Linked DNA regions of Homo sapiens: region 2 is linked to region 1. A link means that fine-mapping ties the variant in region 1 to the expression of a gene that starts in the linked region. Tissue or cell type: esophagus muscle. Region 1 holds a variant in brackets; the other region holds the start of a gene. All regions are shown on one strand. Distances are from middle to middle.

What was found. PIP is the estimated chance that this variant, and not a neighbour inherited with it, causes the effect.
Region 2: it holds the start of ST6GAL2, and the variant in region 1 is fine-mapped to the expression of ST6GAL2 in esophagus muscle (GTEx, PIP 0.97).

Annotation. Positions count from the first base shown.
Region 1 is chr2:107,053,160-107,061,558 of GRCh38, forward strand. No RefSeq gene overlaps it. Among named protein-coding and RNA genes, the nearest start is that of ST6GAL2, 170 kb to the left of the region's middle. The variant A/T (reference allele first, on the strand shown) is at 3,117.
Region 2 is chr2:106,882,821-106,891,219 of GRCh38, forward strand. ST6GAL2 (ST6 beta-galactoside alpha-2,6-sialyltransferase 2) reads right to left here and starts at 3,347. Exons shown (of 6, transcript NM_001142351.2): 1 at 3,273-3,347. It overlaps LOC124907864 (a long non-coding RNA gene), which reads left to right and starts at 3,713. Exons shown (of 2, transcript XR_007087169.1): 1 at 3,713-4,287.

The DNA.
Region 1 (8,399 bases):
GGAAACAAAAGATGCTGGTGAGGATGTGGAGACATAGGAACACTTTTACACTGTTGGTGGGAGTGTAAAGTAGTTCAACCATTGTGGAAGTCAGTGTGGTGATTCCTCAAGGATCTAGAACTAGAAATACCATTTGACCCAGCAATCTCATTACTGGGTATATACCCAAAGGAATATAAATCATTCTACAATAAAGAAACATGCACATGTGTGTTTATTGCAGCACTATTTACAATAGCAAAGACTTGAAACCAACCCAAATGCCCACGAATAATAGACTAGATAAAGAAAATGTGGCGCATATATACCATGGAATGTATGCAGCCATAAAAAAGAATGAGTTCATGTCCTTTGCAGGGTCATGGATGAAGCTGGAAACCATCATCCTCAGCAAACTAACACAGGAACAGAAAACTAAACAATGCATGTTCTCATTCATAAGTGGGAGCTGAACAATGAGAGCATGTGGACACAGGGAGGGGAACGTCACATACCAAGCCCTGTAGGGGGGGTGGGGGCAAGGGGAGGGAGAGCATTAGGACAAATGCATGCGAGGCTTAAAACCTAGATGGTGAGTTGATAGATGCAGCAAACCACCATGGCACACGTATACCTACGTAACAAGCCTACACGTTCAGCACATGTAACCCAGAATTTAAAGTAAAATAAAAAACAAAATAAACAATAATAACTGAACAAGCAGAAAATCTAAAAGGAGACTATTTCATTTGAACACATACGGAATATAGTCAAAGTTACACTCAGGGAAAAATACATAGCCTTAGAAGCTTTTGTTAAATAGAATTTTTTCTTCCGATTATGAAGGATTAGTTGCTAATCAATTTAATGGAATCACTAGGGGAAAAAAGAACAATATGCCTAATCATGATAATATTTTAAATTACCAGAAATAGAAAAGATTCTGAAAAAACCTTGACAATTAAAAAAGGAATAAGAATACCCCAAACAGCAATAAATTGAAGAATAACTTCCAATGTTGGGAAAATAAAAAAAATTTTCAGCAGAATTTGCTACCTAGCTTAACTATCACTTAACTGAAAAAGCAGATTAATAATTTTTTTAGATATGCAAAGCCTCTAATTTTACCTTTCTGTATCCTTCCTTAGAAAGCCATAGGATTCTTTTAGCTAAACAAATGTTTAATAATAATTGTAAAAAGTAGAAAACAAAGAATCCCAGAAATTTTTCTTTAAATAAAGAGGATTGGAGAGAATTCACTGGACTGCAACAGATCTAGACAGCAGCTAGTCCAGCCTTTAGCAGGAGAGAGGACCACAAGAGGACCCCTGGATAATTTAGTTTTTATAGATTAGATGAGATAGTAGATGATAGAACATCCAGAAAAAGTAAGTGGATTAATGGAAACATGCAAATGAAAAAGAGGCAATTATTAATTCAAGGGAAAACAAAAAGCTGTATCTGACTAGGTTCTATAGTGAACAGTATTTATATAGGAATAAGTGAAGGAATGTTGTTTATTGACTTAACTAAAATTGCTCAATAACTTTTATTAATTTAACTAAAAATAGTGGTTAACTATCTGAAAAGTTAAAGAAGGGTATGGTGAAGGTCTAAATAAATATTTATCATGTTATGAACTCAATAAAATATTTAAAATTAATAAATGTAAAAGAACATGATAAACTTAACACTTGAAAATATGGATGCAATGACCAGAATAAGTAGCTAAATACAGAGGTTAAGTTTCAAATAGCTAGAAAGAGGACATTGAATGGTCCCAACACAAAGAAATGATAAATGCTTGAATTGATGGGCATACCAATTACCCTCAGCTGATTTGTATACGTGTGTTACACCATCGGTATGTATTCATGAATGTGTACAATTATTATGTGTCAAACATTTTTTTTTAAAGTGATTGTCGATGGAGATTTGTGATAGGGGCTAGACAATGCATGAGTGGAGGTCTACTCTTTGTGTTTTTGTTTTGTTTTGTAGTTTTTGGTTTTCTAAACTTTAAAGGCTTTTTATTGACTTTTTTTAATTCATGAAAAGGCTTTTAATAAATTATAGTTTGTTTCTCCCCAAAGCTAATTGAAATAATAATTAAATCCACTTTGTAAAAGCTGTAAATAGACTACTTTTGGCAAGTGGTCCTCAACTGGCTTATCATTATCTAATCTTTCTCCCAGTTCTAGATGGTAGTTTTTAAATTTCTGGGGAAATTTTAAATTTTCATGATGACCGAAGTAGTACCATAGGCATGTAGTATATGGGGCAGAGGTGGGGGAGAGTAGATATAAAACATAACCAATGAACGTCAATCTCTAATGTTCCACTAAATATAATTTACTTGGAATATATCTATCATGTACATTAATGGAACTTTACTCTGTTGTTCACTATTGTAGAAAAATTATACGCACTTAACAGTAGTACTTCTTGTGGTAAAAGTATTGCAAACATGAATATAACATAAACATCTTATTTAGGAACAGAGTCTGACTGCAGTGTTTTATATTTACTGGTGCAGTTGTCTGGAAGAATGTATATTTTGAAATACCAGTTATTTATTGTGAAGGAATTGAAGAGCTGCACTATAATCCTTCCTGTGGCTCCAGGATGCTGAAGAACAATTTGATCCTTAGTCAACATTTTTGAAATATCAAGTGAAGGAATATATCCCCTGGAAATAAATGAGAGTCTTGCTGGGTTGCTAGTTATTGATTTCATCTGAGAACGTTCCTAAGCATGCCATTCCTGGTTGTCCAGATTGTTTATTTGGTCACATGTAATTTACTGTTAGCTGCATTAAATAACAAAAACAGGATACTGATCTATCCAAGTGCTACAAAACTAGCAATGTATTTAAGCTGACAACTCCCAGATGGGGGAGTTACCTGTGCTGGTGTGATTTACATGTGTGTCAGTGCTCATCTCTCAAGATCAAGACATACATTGTGTTTTGGGCATTGATGATCACTTCTGGCTACTTTCAAAAAGCTTTTTCTTGCAAGCTCTTATGCTCCCTGTTTGGTATTCTTTTATAATGCTAAGTTTAGTTGGCACTGGATAGGGCTACTGTGTTATGTAACCTGAAATCCACTAATACTGTCTTTTAGGGCATTATATGA[A/T]TTCTAAAGCCATATAGTAGTCTCTGTATAGTAAAGTGTGCATAACAAAATATTCCTAAGATAGAGAACGAGAGGGTTCCTGAAGACTTAGTTCCACAGGTATAGTCATTAAGTATTAATTTCCATGGGCTTTCTTTTTCTATAAATCAATTAAAATATTAAATGAAATAATTTATACACAGTGAGTAGATGCTTAGTCTGTAGGCATAAACTTATTTAGGTCTAATTCTCAATTTAAGGATTTGGATTTCGAAGAATATTCTGTAACTGAGAAATTGTAGAGACTTAATAACTTAAATCAATACTCACACCCTTTCGGTTTACACATTTACACCTTTCTTAAAGATAACACAATTTCAAGATGATACTGGGAATACATGAAACTTATCTGGCCAGGAGGAAGATTTTAAATAGGAATGTAAGAAAGTGGTGGGCAGGGAGATGGAAATGCAAGTGTTACATGGGATTTTCTGCAAAGCCCCATAAAAGGAAACAATTCAAATAAAAGAAGTGCTCTTTTTCCCACCTTCCCTCTTTCCACTTGGTACTTATTGATGTCTGGAAAGGGGATGGGATGGCGGGAGCATTTTTGGTGATGGCCTTTCTAAAAAAGGTTGACCAAAAATAAATTTCCTTAAATGATCTCATTAACTTAGAGACTTCCCAACACGGATTAGTCTTGATCTGATCAATAAACAGAATATTCAACTTTCTATTTTGCATAAAAAGAAAACCTTTTATTACAGCATTTTTTTTCTAGGTGATTAAAACAAGTAAAGCTCCCTGATTCTAGATCTGATTTTAGATTCCACTCATAATGACCTTCTCTCCTGCTCGATAAAGTTTCTATGCACAAGGAGGGAGGAGGAAAGTCTTTTAGAAGTGATTGGTGTACACTGTAACAATATTCAAAGGATATTCAAAGTTATCAAATGAAAAGAAACACTTTCTGGATATTACCAGAATTCAATTTCCACATTCCACAGTAATCAAAGTTTACTAATTTTGTGATTGTTTAAAACTTTTTTGTGGTACTTTTTTATATTTCAAAATAATACCTTGGTGTTCCTGATTTAAAACTTTTTTGTGGTGATTTTTATATTTCAAAATAATTCCTTGGTGTTCCAGTCAACTTAAGATGCTGTTGTCTCCCCATTATAAAAGAGGAGAAAGTTTGCCTTAAAATTTATTTCTTTTGAAGCACTTTTTTTTGCATTATTATATTTGTGTTTTTAAAATTTTTCTAACTCACAGTGATATTCTCCTACATTTTGTTCTATTAATTTTACATTTCATTTTTATGTGTTTACTCTCCTAGGATTCACATTGTATTGGGTGGGGTAGTTGTTCAGTTGAGGTAGAGCATTCTTTTTTTCCATATTTTTCATTACCATCTACTGAGTAGTCTCTCTCCTCTTATTTGTTTTTTTATACATACTATTTTTATTATTCCCAGAAAGCATAATTTATTTAATTCACAATACACAAACATACACACAGTTTACATTTTATTTTGAAACTACGTAATCTAAATCTTTTACTGTCATGTATGTAATACATTATTCTCATTATTATCTAGTTATTGCATTAAAATTTTTAAAAATGTTTTATTTCTATAGGTTTTGGGGGAACAGGTGGTATTTGGTTACATGAATAAGTTCTTCAGTGGTGGTTTGTGAGATTTTGGTGCGCTTATCACCCGAGCAGTATACACTGAACCCAATTTGTAGTCTTTTGTCCCTCACCCCCCTGCCACCCTTTCCTCTGAGTCCCCAAAGTCCATTGTATTATTCTTATGACTTTGTATTCTCATAGCTTAGCTCTCCTTGTAAGTGAGAAGATACGATGTTTGGTTTTCTGTTCCTGAGTTACTTCACTTGGAGTAATAGCCTCAAGCTCCATCCAAGTTGCTACAAAAGGCATTTTTTTATGGTTGAATAGTATTCCCTCTTTATTTTTGCTGCGAATGCCATTAATTCGTTCCTTTTTGTGGCTGAGTAGTATTCCATTGTGTGTATATGTGTGTGTGTGTGTGTGTGTGTGTGTGTGTGTGTATGTGTATATAGATATATAAAATTTCTTTACTCATTGATTGATGGGCATTTGGGCTGGTTTCAGATTTTTGCAATTGCAAATTGTGCTCCTATAAACATGTATGTGCAAGCATCTTTTTCATATAATGACCTCTTTTCCTTTGGGTAGATACCCAGTAGTGAGATTGCTGATTCAAATAGTAGTTCTACGTTTGGTTCTTTAAAAAATCTCCACACTGTTTTCCATTGTGGTTGTACTAGGTTACATTCCCACTAGCAGTGTTGAAGCATTCCCTTTTTACTGCATCCATGCCAACATCTATTTATTTATTTTTTTTGATTGTGGCCATTCTCGCAGGAGAAAGGTGGTATGGCACTGTGGTTTTGATTTGCATTTCCTTGATCATTAGTGATGTTGAGCATTTTTTCATATGTTTATTGGCCATTTGTATATCTTCTTTTGAGAACTGTCTATTCATGTTCTTAGACCACTTTTTGGTGGGATTGTTTTATTTTTTCTTGCTAATTTATTTGAGTTCCTTGTAGATTCTGGGTATTAGTCTTTTGTTAAATGTATAGATTGTGAAGATTTTCTCCCACTCTGTGGGTTGTCTGTTTACTCTGCTGACTCTTCCTTTTGCTGTGCAGAAGCTCTTCAGTTTAATTAAGTCCCAACTATTTATCTTTGTTTTTGTTGCATTTGTTTTTGTGTTCTTGGTCATGAAGTCTTTGCCTAAGCCAATGTCTAGAAGGATTTTTCTGATGTTATTTTCTAGAATTTTTACAGTTTTGGGTCTTAGATTTATGTCCTTGACCCATCTTGAGTTGGTTTTTTTACAAGCTGTGAAATGAGGATCCAGTTTCATTCTGCTATATGTGGCTTGCCAATTATTCCAGCACCGTTTGTTGAATAGGGTGTCCTTTTCCCACTTAATGTTTTTGTTTGCTTTGTTGAAGGTCTGTTGGCTGTGTGTATTTAGGTTTATTTCTGGGTACTCTATTCTGCTCCATTGGTCTATGTGCCTATTTTTATATCAGTACCATGCTGTTTTGGTGAATATGGCCATATAGTATAGTTTGAAAGCAGGTAATGTGATGATGCCACCAGATTTGTTCTTTTTGCTTAGTCTCGCTTGGGCTATAGAGGTTCCTTTTTGGTTCCATATGAATTTTAGAATTGTCTTTTCTAGTTCTGTGAAGATCGATGGTGATATCTTGATGGGAATTGCATTGAATTTGTAGACTGCTTTTGGCAGTGTGGTCATTTTCACAATATTGATTCTACCTATTCATAAGCATGGGTTGTGTTTTCATTTATTTGTATCATCTATGATTTCTTTCAGCAGTGTTTTGTAGTTTTCCTTGTAGAGGACTTTCACCTTCTTGGTTAGGTATATTCCTAAGTATTTTAATTTTTTTTTCAGCTATTGTAAAAGGGGTTGAGTTCTTGATTTGATTCCCAGCTTGGCTGCTGCTGATGTATAGCAGAGCTACTGATTTGTATAACGTAATTTTGCATTCTGAAATTTTACTAAATTCATTCATCAGTTCTAGGTGCTTTCTGGAGGAGTCTTTAGGATTTTCTAGGTATACAATCATATCATCAGCAAACAGTGACAGTTTGACTTCCTTTTTACCAATTTGAATGCCCTTTATTTATTTCTCTTGTCTGATTGCTCTGGCTAGAACTTCCAGTACTATGTTGAATAGAAGTGGTGAGAGTGGGCATCCTTGTCTTGTTCCAGTTCTCAGAGACAATCCTTTCAACTTTTCCCCTTTCAGTATTGTGTTGGCTGTGGGTTTGTCATAGATGGCTTTTTTTACATTGAGGTATGTCCCTTGTATGCTGATTTTGCTGAGAGTTTTAATCACAAAGAGATGCTGTAATTTGTCAAATGCTTTTTCTGCATCTATTGAGATGATCGTGTGATTTTTGTTTTTAATTCTGTGTATGTGGTGTATCACATGTATTGACTTGCATATGTTAAACCATACCTGTATCCCAGCTATAAAACCCATTTGATCGTGGTGGATTATCTTTTTGATATATTGTTGGATTCAATTAGCTAGTATTTTATTAGGATTTTTGCATCTGTGTTCATCAGGGATATTGGCCTGTAGTTTTCTTTTTCTGTTATGTCCTTTCCTAGTTTTGGTATTAAAGTGATACTGGCTTCATAGAATGATTTAGAGAGGATTCCCTCTTTTTCTATTTTGTGGGATAGTTTCAATAGGATTGATACCAATTCTTCTTTGAATGTCTGATAGAATCCAGCTGTGAATCTGTCTGGTCCTGGGCTTTGTTGTTGTTGGTGGTGGTGGTAGTTTTTTTTTAATTACCATTTCAATCTTGCTGCTTGTTATTCGTCTGTTCAGGGTTTCTAATTCTTCCTGATTTAAGCTAGGAGGGTTGCTCACTAGAGGTTAAGAAGCACTAATTTAGATGATTTTCACCATCCCTCTGGCTTTCAGAATTTTGTAACAGTCATGATATTTTTATTGAAGATGCATTACAAGCAAACTCCATGGGAATTGCAAAGAAGTGTATGACATGCTCTTGTCTAACTTAAAATTTAGTTGAGAAAACAGACTTGGAGGTTAAGTATAGCCGGACTGATGTCTGATGATCAAATACAAGTGGATGTGGTGATTGAACTCTGAGTGGTCTCGGCTACCATGTCTGCTATAATAGGAGGGATCAATCAAGTCATGAAGCTGGTGAAGCTAGAGGCCGGCAAGAAGGTTCAGGAAAGTGCAGAGGCACCAATGTGGGAAATGAACTGTGTCTCGGATGGGGCACAAGAGTGAGGAGGTTGTGGCAGTGCCCCTGGGCCTTCACTACCCGTAAGTGGATAGAGCATCAATACTTAGATAGGCTCAGGTGTGAGAAAAAATGGACACGGGGGTTGTAGCCAAATGGTGAGGAGCCTTGAATATGGAAATAGATTTTTTTCATACTTCAAATAATTTTTATTCAATAACAAAACTATATATCTAACTCTAAATATGCATATATTTATTTTTGCATATGGAATATAGCTTTATTGCAAGAAAAAAATCATTCAAGACAGAAACTTAGGATAATCCTGAAGACAGACTCACTGAATTTTGGTTCGTATAGCTAGACTTGTGAACCTGGAGGCATCCTTTTGGTCGGTGTTTTCAGAATGTGCTCTTATACCCCTTGGGAATTCTCTGACAAAGATTTTCTGAGGAGGTAACAGGTGAACTCTTCAGCTTTCTGCTCTCC
Region 2 (8,399 bases), 170 kb before region 1:
TTCCCTAGACAAGACCACAGAGGGCAGCAGAAGCCAGGATGGCACAGAACAGTTCCGTCCAGATAGAAGTCCTCCGCAGTGGGCAGCATGCCTCTGATGTCATTTCCATACACAGAACAATTCTCCCAACCAACCAGTAGGCCCTGGGTACTGTGGGATAATCAGGAACCTGCAGGTGGCAAAGTGAAGATAATAGTCACAACTGCTGGGACCCTGCTTTCACCAGGGCTAGGACCAATGCTGGAGCTGGACCAGATCACCAACTCCTGCAAAGCCTTAGGACTGCCCAGGTCATACTTCATCCCCTTTAAATGTATTTCACCTGTGGACTAGGTAGATGCCAAGTATTTTGAATTGCAACTGTTCCCCTATCAATTCAATGGGAGGGGTGGGAGGTGGCTGGGACCAAGCAAGGGTAAATTTCAAATTTTGTAAGGGGCATAATAAATCCGTGTTTCTCTAACACTGATATCTTCGCATTGTGTACTTAATAACATTTAGAAAGAAATTTCTCAAAAGTTGGAAGGAGAGCTTTCGGAAAAATGGTAGGTATATTAAACTGAAAATGTGGTAATCCACTAACAGTGGCTGGTCATCTACAGCCCATTCAGTGTTTGGCATTGATATCAAAAATTGGTGTAAGAACATTGAAAATTTCTGTGCAAATATGCATCTGTGTTTCCCTTCCACTTTCCAAAATTAGTATATAATTATATGCAATTGTTACTTTTATAGTCATTTGGGAATTTCATCCCATTTTTTTTAAGGGATGAGATTTCAGATTTCAATGCTTAGAAAATCAAAGCTTAACATACACCTGCCATGAGGGTACTATCTGATTCCCTTAGACATTTATGCATGCTGAATTAAGTACTTAATTTAATTTAAGCAATTAAATTTTAAGATCATATTACAGAAAATCCAGGAAAAGAAAAAACTCAATCAATCAGGAATAACACAATACATTTAAAGAGCAAATGCATTAACAAAGACTGTCCTTATTATCATGCATAAGATATTTTTATTCAAAGTCTCACCCATGAGGTAGCAATCTGCAAACTAATTAAGAGCTTCCCAGAGGACAAATATCTCCAAGTTTTTGGAAAGGAACCTATCATTTATTTACCTAAGAAGGAGTGGCAGAAGCCTAGAAATCAGTTTGTCTTTCAGAAAAGATTTAATCATTTGAGAAATGCTTGGATAAATTCTAAACCTGGAGGGTAAAATTTCAGTCAGTATCAGTATAAGCAATAGACCAGAGCCTCACACACTGAAATCATCTCAGAAAGAAGAGAAACTCGGGGGTGGGGGGGTGGAACCTCCAGAAACAAGCACGTACAGGAATTTTTTCAGCAGTCCCTTCGCTATTTAATCTTTGCTGGCTGGATTGGCCACAACTCCCTAGACTCAACTTATGTCTTCACCCCACAGAGTAAACCTTTTCCCTCTTAATTATCCTCATCAGAAACTCAACACAGATAACTGCCCTCTTCTGCATAATAAATCATTCACATATTTTCAAATGTTAAATTGTCTCAACTTTGAATCCTCTAGTCTAAAAATCCTGAATTTTGTATCCTTGCTTCCTAGATCCTGTGCACCACATAGCAAACTCACCAAATGTTGGTCCTTGCTCTGACCTCACTCTTTCCAGGAGTATCCATCCAAAGCCTCTCTAAACTGTGGAGCTCAGTACTCCATATAAAGCAGTGACTCCTATCACAATCTCTACAAGACATTTAACTCAAAACTCCAGAAGCTTTCACAGCACCAAGCAAAAATGTAAGATGCTACCATTTGTATCTATTGCGGCAAAAATTGGATAGAGTGCCTTTTTAACTTTGCAGTAAAATTCAAGGCACTTCACCTATTATTTTAGACTTTCATCAGTTTTGAGCACAATATCCATTCACCTTTGCCAACAGTTTCTTTTAATGCATTAGTACAAAATTCCTCAAGTGGTATATAAAAATTTTGGTTGTCAGTTCCAGAAAAATAATGGGGGAAGGAGAGTGGGTAAAAACAGGTTCAAGGCCACACATCAGTTTTCCTTTTAAAAAAAGTTTTAACCCTAAATTTGCAGCGCATATATATATATATATATATATATATATACATACACACACACACATATATACATATGTGTATGTATATACATATACATCATATATATATAGCACTTCACTTTATTGGAATTCTTCCTTGGTCATAAATTATATTTCAAGTTGGCAAAAAATGTTGATCAGAATTTCAAAAAAGGGAAGCATCAAAGTAACCAGCATGGGGTTTTTCAAGTGTGCAGAAAGTTCTCTAAATACAAAATGTGCTTCCAGCCCACCAAAGACCCCCCTCACCCAAGCAGGCAGTCCTCGGCGAGGAGGGTCAGCATGCCCCTTTATGGTCAGAACGGCAGTGGTGCAAAAGACAATGATTTCAACCAAATATGGTTTGCCTCTCGCCAAATTTTTCGCATGTCCAATAAAAATAAGTTCACAAAAATCCAGCCAAGCATTACTTTCCCCCCAAAAGTGCTTCTCAGATTACAAAACAGCTTTGAAAGTTCAGCCTGACAAAACAAATATGGTACTAGGAGGAGAGACCTGGAAGGCAATCACAAAAAGTCTCATTTAAATTCCTGGAAAGCACAGCTTCTCCAAACACAGCTATTCAGCTCTTTGGAAGGCAGCACTTGCGGGAGCCATTGAGTTTAACTTCACTCAGTCCCCCAACACAGAACCGGCAAATCCGAATGAGATGGACGTCACACTCCCTACTCAAAAGAATGCATCAAATATCCACTCCGTAACACCGCGGAAAGTAAACCCAAAAGCGGAGTTTGCCGCCTGCCAACTACATAAGAATTAACACTCGGGTATTTAGGATTCTAAAGATCCCTACTACCCCAAACATTATAGCCACAGAGAACCAGAAATGAACAGAACACACTTTAACCTTTAAGAAGTGCAGTTTTGTACGGGGGTTGGCTGAAGAAAGACAAAAATCTTCACTCCCTTCCAGAGCCAAAAGAGCCAAAATAAAAGATCACCTTTACTGAGCCACAGGGGCACAACTGTATCCGCCCGTCCCCAAAGCGCAAGCCGTCCTCCCGTTCGCTTCTCCAGAATTTCCTGCTTTTCCCCAAACCACCTTCAACATTCCCCACACACGGGTCTCGCTCCTAAACACGGAGTGTAACTCCGCGCACAGCAGCGCGGAGGCTGCAGCGCCACCAAGAAAGGCGTCGCCAACCCTTACCCAGTGCCCTCCCTTACCAGCCTTCTTCCCACGCCGCGCCTCGAAGCGCACGACACCGTGGTGCTCGGTGCTCCCCCTGGCAGCGCGGCACTGGAGTCCAAGGCGTGCGTGTCACATTTTATTCCCCGGCAGCCGCTCGGGTGCGCGCGCTACGCGCTCCCACACTCACGCTGGCGCCCGCTAGAGCTGGGACCCTGGCCGGGGTCCCCGACTCACGCCGCGGAACTTGGGGGCTGCAGAAGGCGAGTGCGCGGCGGGAGTCGTCCTGCCGCAGGCTCGAGTCCTCCTCCTGCCACCGTGGGGTCTCGGAGCTGCCCCGCGCTCCCGTCCCAGGCGGCCTGCGGGATCACCTCTCCGGGGCCAGCGCTGCTCCGCGCCGGCGGCAGCTGCAAGCGCGGGCGGCGGGGCACAGCGGGTGGCTCGGCCTCAAAGCCGGCGGGAGGCTACGCTCAGCCCCGCGCTGCACGCCTCATTGTTTCGGGCAGCGCGGCGGCGGCTCCCGCGGCCAGAGGAACCGCGGCCCCGAGCCCCGGGGAGAGGCGGCGGTTCCCGGCCCACGCACCGAGGCTGCGCCGCGCCCCGCCCCCGAGCTCCGCTCGCCCCAGAGCCCCCTCCCTCTCCGCGATCCCTTTCATCCTTCCCGCTCCAGGCTCACCTAGCTGGCGGGAGCCGGGCACTGGGAAGTTGGGCTGCCCCCTCCCCGCGCCCCCGGCCCGGCAGCTCGGCCCGCCGGCGAGCGCAGGCGGGGCGCTCCCTGGCTGCGCGCGGATTTCTGCTTGTCGCGGAGAGTGACTGCAGACTTGGGCTGCGTGGGGCGGTGCGGGGCAGCACGGCTGCCTAAAAAGGCGTGTTTCTCCCCGGCCGCCGCCTCCATCCAGCCCTAGTTCTTCCGAAGGTTACCTGCACAGTACCCGCCTGGCACCGCGCCTGGACACCTCCGGGGCACTCGGGTCCCGGGCGGCGGCAGGAATGCAGGAATGCGCACAGGCTGTGGGCGGCCAGGAGGGAGTCCCGGCGCCTGCCCCGGCGGAAGTGAGTCTTTGTGTACCCTGTCCAACACCTCCCCCCGCCAGCGCGGAAGGCCGGGCTACCTGCGCGCCTGGCAGCGCCTGGCAGCCGGCTGGGTGGGGCGCAGGGGAGCGCAGCATCCTCCCCGGCTCGCTAGCTCCCTTTGTTCATCTCGCTCAACCAGGCTCCGCACTGCCGCCTGGCCCTCGCTCCCAGAGCTTCTCTAAGGATATGGGATGGACTTGGGAGCGGGCCACCTTTCATTTGGGAAGGGTAGCTCGCCAAGTCCGGTGACGGTGCTCCCTGGAGACCCCCACCTGCCCGCCCCTCCACACTGCCGGTCCCCAACCCCAAGAGGGACGGAAAGTTCTTGGGGTAGAAGCCGGCGGGACAAGTGGTTGAAGCAGCCTCCGGAGCCAGTGGGCGGCTGCGAGCTGGGCAGCTGGAGCCTGCGGGCGGGGCCGCGGGGAGGTGCCCATCGAGTGTCGGTCTGGTCGCGTGCGGAATGTCCACTTGTCACCGCGGCCCTTGCGTTTTCTCGAGACGGCGGCAGCTGGTCCTAGGACCCCAAACCGCGCCGCCCTTTGTTTGCTGGTAAATACTCTCCTGTGAACTTCAGCGTGTCTCTCCGCGCGCACTCCTGGCATTGGGTGCCCCACCCCGCTGGTTCTCTCGCGGACCCAAAGAGCTGTTCAGGTGTAGGGGAATCCCAGGTAGATGGATAATATTGCTAAGGTTGGGCCCATCTCAGGGGGACTGGTTAGTCACCCCTCACCCCACCCCACACCCTCAGTCGCTAGAAGGACACACGTTTTGGAGACAGAGATCTGCCATTAAATGTATTATTTAAAAATCCGCAAATACTTTTATTCAAGTAATTTAGACTTTTTTTTTAGGGGGGAAAAAGCAATTAACTGGCTACCCAATTCATTCAGCATTCATTAGTGCCTACCTTAGCCTGGAACTCTGAGCTAGACAGTGGGCGCCCAGAACTCCCTCAAAGAGTTTACAGAAATGTAAAACAGCACGGGAATTAAACTAAAATCGAGTGGGTATAATGCACTGTGTTCAAACAAAAGTGTGGGCCGAAAACGCTTACTCAGTATTTCCCCAATTGTATTAATTATGTCTGACACATGGAATTCTGCGGAACTGCCTGAATGAACAATGTGTTACACAGATATTTTTTAAAAAAAGAAAAATTATGGCCGGGCGCGGTGGCTCACGCCTGTAATCCCAGCACTTTGGGAGGCCGAGGCGGGTGGATCATGAGGTCAGGAGATCGAGACCATCCTGGCTAACAAGGTGAAACCCCGTCTCTACTAAAAATACAAAAAATTAGCCGGGCGCGGTGGCAGGCGCCTGTAGTCCCAGCTACTCGGGAGGCTGAGGCAGGAGAATGGCGTGAACCCGGGAAGCGGAGCTTGCAGTGAGCCGAGATTGCGCCACTGCAGTCCGCAGTCCGGCCTGGGCGACAGAGCGAGACTCCGTCTCAAAAAAAAAAAAAAAAAAAAAAAAAAAAAAAAGAAAAATTATATTTTATAAATGTGAAATACATACAGTGTGGTTAAAAGTGACCAAAACAAAACAGAAACAAACAACCTGATAGAGACCCATAGCTGGTGGGGATAGAGAAAGGAAATACTGCAGAAAGACTCACCTTCTTAATAGTAGAGGGGCGCAGAGGGGGTTGCAAAGTCTGTGGGCTTCTGTTTCTCTTCTGTATAATGGATGTAATAGTACCTACCTTCAGCCTGGCGCGGTGGCTCACACCTGTAATCCCAGTACTTTGGGAGGCCGAGGCGGGCGGATCACGAGGTCAGGAGTTCGAGACCAGCCTGGCCATAATGTTGAAACCTGTCTCTACTAAAAATACAAAAATGAACCGGGCGTGGTGGCAAGCGCCAGTAGTCCCAGCTACTCGAGAGGCTGAGGCAGGAGAATCGCTTGAACCTGGGAGGCGGAGGTTGCAGTGAGCCAAGCTGGTGCCACTGCACTCCAGCCTGGGTGACAGAGAGAGACTCCCTCTCAAAAAAAAAAAAAAAAAAAAAATTATATAGTATCTATCTTCAAGGTTTGTTGTAAGTAGAGAGCATGTGTTAAAAGCATCTCCCCCAGTGCCTGACATGTTATACCTAATAAATTGTAGTAATTAATAAATGACAGTGGCCATTATTAAAACACTTTACCTTGAAACAGAAAAAATTGTACACTTTTTATAGTGTATATATATCTTATACACTTACTATCCTTTCTGCGTAAATACTGCCAAAGTTGATATCTTAAAGAAATTTTAATGAGTTAAATAAAAGTGTCCAAATAACAGTCAACTTTATAGAAGTAGAAAAACTACCATCTTAAGGCAAATATGCAAATTACTGTTGTAAAACTTTAAGTGGATTGAGTTCATTACTTATGATCAAGGTAGTAAATACACAGTCACTAAACCGACTTAAATCTATTGCTTCCCAAAGGAACCACAAAGCCAGTTTATATACAGGAAGCTATATGCTGATGATTGCTTCTGTCAAAGTGTAATGGTAAATAAAATATTTTGGCACCCTTTAGTTTAATTACTCAGAGACACAAGGAGCAGATTATTTAATTATTTTATTGGTCTGTAGATTCATGAGGAATTCCTGAGTACCTCTGGCACTATAATATTATTTTCCTTACAAAATCATCAATAACAACAAAGCACAATAAACTTATTCCTACAGATAGGCAGCATTCAGAAATCCACTTGCTGTTATCCATTTGCTCATAATAATATGAATTTCCTTTCTTTCTTTTTTTAAATTCAGGGTTCCTCAATTCTCCTTTTCTCACCCTGTGTTAACTAACCAGCTGAGCTTTCACAGGGACAATTCCTTCCTGTTTCAGGAACTTGAAGCACATCATGAACAATCAACCAAATCAGGAAGCTCAGTTACTCAGCTGAGAAGCATTCAGGTGGGACAGGGATGAAGAATAAATATCTTCTAACTCCACCATTGGTGAATCTGGGCTATTTTATTTCTCTTACCTATTGTTCATATAAATATATTTTTCTCCCATTCATTATGCCACTCAAATTTCACAATAAAACTATAGATTATTTTACAGATGGGAAAACTCACCGATAGAAACTTTCAGGACCACTTTCTCTAAACAAGTTGCCTTCGTTTTCTGATTTACCTGAGATTTTCCATCTGTAGCATTGCAAAAACACATTGATTTCTTCCCTTGCTTGAGAAATTAGTACCTCAGAAAGGAAAATCTATATCTGGGCTCCTCCTATTTAATCAGTGAAACGAATTTTCATGTGGCCGATCAGTATTTAAAAAAAAAAGAATTTCAGATTCTTGCTTTTTGGAACCCATTATCCACTGACAAGATCAGGTAGAAACATTTGTTTCCTAGCCAACCCATAGATTTTTTTAAAAAAGTAGTTCCCTTTGTCTTTGGAAATGTTCATAAGGAAATAGACCACCATTAGAAAAAAAATGCTTCAGGTATTTGCATATGTATAGGAGACAAAATCCTCGGCCAGCAGGAGCTTCTTCTACCTTTCTGTCAGTGTTTTCAGGTGGAGAGAAAAACATTATTTTTTAGCATCAGATATAGGAATGATGCCATTTTCAGTATCTGCAGTAGGAACAATAAAACCAAAATGCAACTGGTTACCCTTAGGCTTGCTGACACCCGCGCTAGTCTGTGGGCTGCCGTCCAGGAAATAGAGGCTGGCCTCAGAGGCGGGGTCCTGGGGCCACAACCTGACCTCAGCTGGCAATGAGCTGTACCAGACAGAGCAATAGAAAAACATGTCAGTATGTGAAAGAAACTATCCTTTCCTAAACTTCTCCTTGCAGCCCACTATCCAATATTAAAAAGACAGAACTGAAAGTTGGATCTCTGGGTTTTAGTCCTGACTTTGTCCCTTTAGTGATGTTATTTGAACTTTCTGAGTCCAAAGAACCTCATCAGCAATAGAGACAAACATCATCAGGTAGCTGCACACAAGAATCTGAGTTCATATCCAAGCTTACAGACATTCACCAAACCACAGCACTTCACAGTTTATGTAAAGACTTTTCTATCCATTATCTCATTGGATTTCTCCAGACTCTGAATGATGAAGTGCAGAGATGAGGGAA